Linked DNA regions of Homo sapiens. The protein of the gene in region 2 purifies or fractionates together with the protein of the main gene of each other region. This does not show direct contact. Each region holds a gene or a part of one and is shown on either strand. Other genes may lie near its edges.

Region 1 (4,296 bases), about 110 Mb from region 2:
CCCAGCCTCAAGAGTGATTCAGGGAGGCAGACAAGGGGCCTGTTCTAGCCCAGGAGAGACCAAGGCCAGACTCTCTTATGTCTTATAAGATCTGCTATTCAAACTCAACTGACATATCTCCATCTTCCTTCAACCCCCCCAATTCTTGGTGGATGTGTTTGTAGATACCAGTGACAGGTATAGATATTCTCAAAACCACCTTCACCTTTTCTGATGTATCTTCATCTTTTAATCTTCTGTATATACACATACATATACACGTATATATATATTTTGTTTATTTACTTCCTCTCCACCTGCTGGGCTGCAAGCTCTGCCTAAAACAGGGCCTGGCACATGGTAGACACTCAACAAATATCTGCTAAAGGAAAGGAAATGCCCATTTCTCCCAGTTCTTCTCTGACCTCAATGACATTCCCTCCTTTTGCCAATACCTCCCCAACTTGGGAAGGAGGAAGAGGGGTGGGACGGAGAGAACTCCATATCTGGGCCTTTACAACATGGACCACAGGGACACAAAACACAACTATATTACATACTTTGAATCCTGCGTGACCTGAGAAAACGCTCTGCTGAGAACAATTCAGGGGGAAGACAAAGGGTGGCAGACGTGGTCACTGACAAGAAGGAAGGTGTTAGAGGCCTTCCAGAGGGTCTCTGGAGGAGCTGGTGGGGCCAAGAGGACTACATCTGCTCAGGAGGGAGACCCTTCCAGAACTGGAGTGGGAGTGGGGCCACTAAGGGACAAAAGAGAGAAAATGAAGGGCGTGTTAGCCTTTGCAAATTTGCTCCAGTTCTGGATAAGGGTGAATCATGTCTGCTAAGATACATAGGAAATGAAAGAAAGGTCAGGGCAAAAACGTGCATCAACACAAGGACAAAGAGAGAAGGAACCTGGGTTGAGCATCATGTTGGGCATTCCTGAGAATGCTGCAATTTTCATGGAACGCTGTGCTGTGACAGGAGGTGATAGAAGGTGGGTGGGTGGGTGGGTGGGTGGAGGAATGTTGTCCTGCCTTGCCAGGGGTCATTATTGCTCTTGGAGGTAAGGGAGACTGAAGTTAGAGATGATTGGGTCAGAAAAAGGGCAATTGTGCTGGTTTGTAAGCTCTGGAGAGCAATGGCCCCATCTTCCTCACATGACTTCCCCACTGAGCTAGCACAGTACCTAGCAGAGACATTGTTGATAAACAAAGACCATGTCTGACTCATGAGGATGAAAGGCAAGTTGTCTGCAGATAAATCTTCTTTTTTTTTTTTTTGGTAGAGATGAAGTCTCCCCATGTTGCCAAGGCTGGTCTCGAATTCTTGGGCTCAAGCAGTCCTCCTGCCCAAGCCTCCCAAAGTACTAGGATTACAGGCATGAGCCTCCATGCCTGGCCCAGATAAATCTTAACACAGCAGTCTGTGGCTTCTCTCTTTCCAGCTCTGCTGAGGCCTGTCAAGGAAGCAGGGATCCTCCTAGAATCCCAGGCTTTGGGGAGTGTAGCTGGGCCAAGGGTCAGTGAGGCAAAACAGTGAGGAGTCCAGACCAATACAGTTCTAATTGGATCCAAGCAGCCAGACAATATCAATTAAAATGCACTTAGTCATGAGACTTACCCCCCTTCTAAGGGGCAGAAATGCTGAACGCTGTAGGGCACGGACAGACTTCTATTTATCTTTGTATCCTCAGTGTCTGGCTTGCTGCCCGGCACATGGTAGGCACTCAATAAATGGCTGGTGAATGAACTACCCAATTAAGGGAAAACATGAAAGAAATGGGAGGCATCCAATGAGAAGAAAGGCACTGGGCAGAGGTTTTAGATTCCCATCCCAGACTTTTCCTGTCACATAGACCTTGGCTTATCTACACACACACAGGCACACACACACACCTACCTATTCCACACACACACACACACATCCCTACCTATTTCCTCTTTTCCACGTGATACTGTAAAGTACACCACCCATCTTTCAAGGCCTGTTTCTTTGCCTTCTCTCTAAGCTCTGCAGTTTCCCTCAGCTTTGAAACCATATGACAAACCTGTTTGTAGGAAGCACAAATAGTGCCTTGGGTAGACTTCCTCCCTGCTCTGTGTTTCTTCAGTAACTGGTGTGTGTCCCAATCTCTGCATTTTTCATCTTGTGTATACTATACTGTCCCTGTTAGTTCCCTTCAGTGTGATTTCTTATTTGTCCCCGTGTCTCCACCTGACTCCAGTTCTGCAGAAGGCAATCAGCAAGTTTACTGACTGTCCTGAAGGAGGCTCAGGTCTGTTTACCATCCCCAAGTCTTAGGAAAGAAAAAGAAAAAAGTCCCGCCCTGGCCACTACATCCCACGAGAAACAAGACCTTAATAACAGTGTAAAAAGAAACTGCTGCCCAAAGAATGAAATCAGCGGGTGGAGGGTGGTCCTTCTAGGTTCTAGGAGCTCAGATGCCAAACAGATGGGATTGGTCCGAGATAGGAATGGAAAAGAAGAGAGAGAGGCTGCCTGCTAACAGTCACGACCTCCGACTCCGGCGGAGCACAGGGCACCGAGTGGTACACAGAGAGCATTTCCCTCCCAATGTGCGCCTCTATTTCCGGACAGACGGCCTCACTGCCAAGAGAGACTGGCCTCTCAGACTCTCCTAGGCGGGTAGCGTAGCTCACAGCGGGCACTGGGACACCCAGTGATTCGGCCGTGTCAGGCCCCACGGCAGAAGGAAAGGAATTCTGGGCCCGACGACTTCAATCCATCCCCACGGCGCCCCAGCTCTGTGACTCACCCGAACTCCACCTCCACTGACAAGGGCGCAGCCATGTTGAGGAAGCCGAGCTCGCAGGAAACTCCCCTCAACTTCCGGCGCGCCCGCAAATTTCCGGGCGTCTCCGGGTGCCGCGGACGGAAGAGGCGGTGCCCAGGGATCCAGCTTCGTCAGCTGTTGGAGGAAGTCATCGAGGGGAGGGGAGGGGAGGGGAGGGCAGCGGAGGGAAAGGGGTGGCAGAGGGACTATCACCGGCGCTGTTGGGGCTGTGAATCGGTCTCCTTCCGTCTTTCACCGACTGGGCTCAGAGACCCAGGGTGGGAAGCGCCTTGTACGGGACCACAAGCAGGCGGAGGAGAGCCCCCAGGTTTTTTGCGACGTGACCGTGAGCCACGTAGCTGCTTATCTTGCATGAGTTAGAATCTCTTCAGTCTACACACCGCTTGGGCCAGCCCATCTACTCGTCTGGTTGGAATTATAAATGACTCCCAGATCTTTATTTCCGACCCAGAATCTCTCCTGAGCGGGCGACTCGCTATCCAGCCGCCCCCTTTGCTGTCGATTTGGAAGTCACTCGTTCAACAGCTGTTCATTGCGCCTCCCTGTGCCAGGCATTTTGATCGGTGCTAGTGGTAAAGGGGATGGGCAAGGTTCCTGCCTTTAGGGCACTCACAGTCTAGCGGGGAGACTAACTGTAATCAAATAAGCATACTAAGACATGTACAACCTCAAACTTAAATAAAGGAACTGAAGTTATAGGAACTTCAAAAAGAAAACTGAGTAGACTGGACTTGCTGGGCTCTAAAACCTGAGTAAACTAGGTGGCTGTGAGGGGAGAGAAACCTCTAGGAGCATTCCAGTGAGGAGGACAAAAGGCCCAGAGGCTCTGGGTGAGAACATGCTGGAACATGGAGAGGAAGGTGGAAGTTAGGGAGCCTGACTTTCATCCATCTAGAGAGGGAGCTGCAAAGGTGCTCAGGGGCCAACCCCTGCCTTGTAAGCAGGTAAACATTTCAGTCTCTAGGAGCAGTGGGAGACTACTGAAGGGTTTTGGGAGACAGTGACATTTTAGAATTGTGTTTTAAAATATAATTTCTGGCTGCAATATGGAGAATGATTTGAGGGGAATAAGGAAAGAGACACGGAGACCACTGGAGCCTGTTGCAAAAGCTCAGGGCAGGCCGGGCGCGGCGGCTCAGGGCAGGCCGGGCGCGGCGGCTCACGCCTGTCATCCCAGCAATTTGGGAGGCCGAGGCAGGCGGATCACGAGGTCAAGAGATCAAGACCATCCTGGCCAACATGGCAAAACCCTGTCTTTACTAAAAAAATACAAAAATTAGCTGGATGTGGTGGCGTGCGCCTGTAGTCCCAGCTACTCGGGAGGCTGAGGCAGAAGAATCGCTGGAACCCGGGAGGTGGAGGTTGCAGTGAGCTGACATCGAGCCACTGCACTCCAGCCTGGTGACAGAGCAAGACTCTGTCTCAAAAAAAAAAAAAAGCCCAGGGCAGAAATGGAATGAAGTTGGCCAGGCACAGTGGCTTATGCCTGTAATCCTAGC
Region 2 (3,500 bases):
AGTTCACCTCAGGATCAATAAGACTAAATTAAAAACAAATAATATCACATATGCTTAACTTCATGGAGATATGCTATGGCCACTTGAAGGTAAAAACAAACTATACAGAGAAAACTATAAATATACCATCTTATATTTGTAAAGCACTTCACAAAGGAAGTCCACATATGTGATCCCCCTTCAACTCATAACAACTCAGCGAGACAGGAAGAGCAGACGGTAGTCTCCTGTGTCACTGATATGGAAACAGGGAACAAAGGAGCTAAGCCTCTGGCCAGAGGATGTAGAGTTAGAAGACATAGGGGCCAAGAGAGCAAGAACCCTGCTTCCCTGTATTTTGCTCTTCCTTTAGGGCATTCTAGCTGTGAAAAGCAATCTGAATGCCCTGAAGTAAACCAGCTGAAACATACCACTCTGACATAACTGCTAAGCATTCACTTTTCATTTTAAAAATCTACCCCTGGTTGCTGAAAATAAAAATGTATTCAAAACTATTTATAAATACACACAGCTATACTTCCACCAATACAACAGTGAACCCTAACTAGGAAAGAGGATTAATGTTACAATAAAAAATTTTCAAGGCTAATTTAAGCTGAATATTTTATTGTTCCAAATTTATTGTATCCAAATTGTCAAAGTATCCTAAAATTCCAGCAAAAAACCCTAGTTCAAGACTACAAATGACTTTGCACAAATGTTTTCATTTCAAAATAGTATTATACTGTCACTGAAAAAGAAACGATGTAACAGGTTTCGGTCCTAACTTAAATCGCTCTTTTTAACTTTGTCATTAAACCATTTTTTAAAGTCAAATACAGACCTGAACTGAAAAACCTTAGAGAGGCATTTCTTAAGATTTAAGAGTGCATGTTTTGTAAACAAGAAAATCTACTGTGCTTTGTTATTTGCAAGCAGGATTATAAGAGAAGTGTGCTTATGTATTAATATACACTCAAAAGTGCTCTTCAACAGCTGCCGATTGAAAGATGACTTATCATTGTTCCATCTTTCCTGTCCCCAGGAAGTTTGAGAAACAATGTCTATGATCACAGCATTCTTCTTAACCAGAACAGCTTTAAGAAGCACTAAGGTATTCAATCTATATGAGTTCTTTTTGTAACATCTGCACTACTTAGAAAGAATGATCAGGCCAGGCGCGGTGACTCAAGCCTGTAATCCCAGAACTTTGGGAGGCCGAGGGGAGCAGATCACCTGAGGTTGGGAGTTTGAGACCAGCCTGGCCAACATGGTGACAACCCGTCTCTGCTAAAAATACAAAAATTAGCCAAGCATGGTGGCATGCACTTGTAATCCCAGCTACTCGGGAGGCTGAGGCAGGAGAATCACTTGAGGCCAGGAGGCAGAGGTTGCAGTGAGGCAGAGGTTGAGATCATGCCACTGCACTCCAGCCTGGGCAACAGAGTAAGACTCCATCTCAAAAAAAAAAAAAAAAAAAAAAGAATGATCAGAGCCACAAATACAGAAAACCTTGAGGCAACGTGAGAATTGACCTCCAAACCTAAAAATGTCTTAGGCAGTTAAGTAGTGCAATTTCTGAAAACATCAAAAATTTTCCTTGCTTCCAATTTACACTGTACATTTCCCCTGCTCTCTGAACATTTCAGCAGTGCTCTATCAGGAAATTCAATGATAAAAATTCCTGAATCTCTTTAGGTCCCTTGTCTACTCTCCTTTCTGATCCTCCAATCCTTTGTACTTCCCCCTCACTGCTACCAACTTCTGAAAAGTTGACTAAAACTATGGAAGCAAGAGGCCCAGAAAGAGAAATCACCCCAACGTTAGAATTAAGGTTAAATAGCACCTTATTTGGTCACCAATAAGTGAGTCTTTCCTAGTTCTTTCTTACTACTGCATTCGTTTGAAAAAAAAAGCATCAATATCCACTTCCATCATGAACATTTGTATTTTAGTGAATAAGAAACTCTACAATAAGAAGCGCTTAAAAACTGAGCTTTTCTGTATGATCAGCAATTATCTGAATACATGTTTCACGTAGCTTTCTAAAAATCTATTACTATTGTGAGAGCAAACAGATCACTGAGCTTAAGAAAATTACTTGGGAATTAATCTTTATTCCCAAGTAATTCCCAAATAATTATTTACGTTTAAATTCAAGGCACAGTTTTGAATATCAACTATATGTCATACACTACTCTATCTTGTTGACAGATTTAGAAATTTTTAAAATTTTTATGTAGTAACAAAATGCTTTTATCGAAAATGCTCTTACTTTTTCCTATTTCAGGAAATTATCTTCTTTTTAAACAGTCTATGCAAAAAAACAAATTTCCACCAGAAGTTTGCTGAATAACTGTGCTATCAAAATAAGTTATCAAAAATAAAGAAAACTCTAAATAGACTAACATTAGAAAAAGCTAAACTCCACTTGCATCAATTTTAAATAAAAGCAATTATAAATTAAGAGGCTCATTATGTAAATTTGCATATATGCATGTATGTGTATACAAACATAAATACTACATATATGTATACAGATACATTTGTCAAATTCTACACTATACCAGTTTAAATATTTATACAGAGAGCCAATGCTAAGAAAACAGAATTAAATACAATATCTTGTTCACAGATTTTTGTGACAGCTTTAAAATGAGATACAATACAGAATTCACGCAGCATTTGTTTTCGAAGATTATATTTCTCAACTGAACATTTTCTTTAAATATTACAAGAGAGCCCCCTATTGACCAAAACTGTTAGCAGTTCTGCAGAATCAGCTAATTATCACTCACATACTTCCAACAAGTACATAATGGTAGTAGCTATATCCAATACATAATGCTTAAAAAGCTTTAAGGGGTAAGGAAGAGGTTATCAGGGTGTCTGAAATGTTATTAATTAAACAAATGAAAAGGGGATATAAACATTCGGATGCATATGGTTTATTACAATTAGAAATAGCTACCATTTAAGTACATCCTACTTGTCAGATATTGTAGTAAATGTTTTATATACATTGCCTCATTTAATACAACCACCTTAATCCTTTTGTATATCAGGCTGCAGTTAATTCTTACTTTTTTGGCTCAAATCTCTCCCTGTTAGAAAAGATAGGATTTCTGTGGAAAAATGACTTTGGGAGTTGACAGAACCATATAATCTAAATAAAGATATCCTTATTAAGATATTGTAAAACTATATAACTTTAACATAACTGTTGTTTAAAGCTGCCAAGTTGTAAGATTTACATTTTATTACCCACCCCTCTTTTCTTTGCTAGAAGTGAATTATTCTTACCATGGACAGTGATGATCCATTCTCCTCACACAGTGGCCGCAGCGGCTACAGTGATGGGAACGCTTTGGTCTCATCAAATTACACTTGTTACATAATTCCCAGAACTCCCTTTCTAAAGAAAAGAAATTAAAATCCATTTAATGAAGGCAAGTGGGTAATGCTGAAATTTACCAACAGTTGTTTAGAAGATTTTATAGGAAGCCTTCAACATAAAACTC

What was found.
Region 1: the proteins of ZDHHC21 (region 2) and URM1 purify together in Homo sapiens (affinity purification with mass spectrometry; one large-scale study listed by BioGRID and IntAct). This does not show direct contact.

Annotation. Positions count from the first base shown.
Region 1 is NC_000009.12:128,369,878-128,374,173, reverse strand, and holds the start of URM1 (ubiquitin-related modifier 1), read right to left. Parts: upstream 2,801-4,296; 5' UTR 2,794-2,800; coding exon 2,759-2,793; intron 1-2,758. UniProt on the Homo sapiens protein: Acts as a sulfur carrier required for 2-thiolation of mcm(5)S(2)U at tRNA wobble positions of cytosolic tRNA(Lys), tRNA(Glu) and tRNA(Gln). Serves as sulfur donor in tRNA 2-thiolation reaction by being thiocarboxylated (-COSH) at its C-terminus by MOCS3.
Region 2 is NC_000009.12:14,658,933-14,662,432, forward strand, and holds part of ZDHHC21 (palmitoyltransferase ZDHHC21), read right to left. Parts: intron 3,395-3,500; coding exon 3,283-3,394; intron 1-3,282. UniProt on the Homo sapiens protein: Palmitoyltransferase that catalyzes the addition of palmitate onto various protein substrates. Palmitoylates sex steroid hormone receptors, including ESR1, PGR and AR, thereby regulating their targeting to the plasma membrane.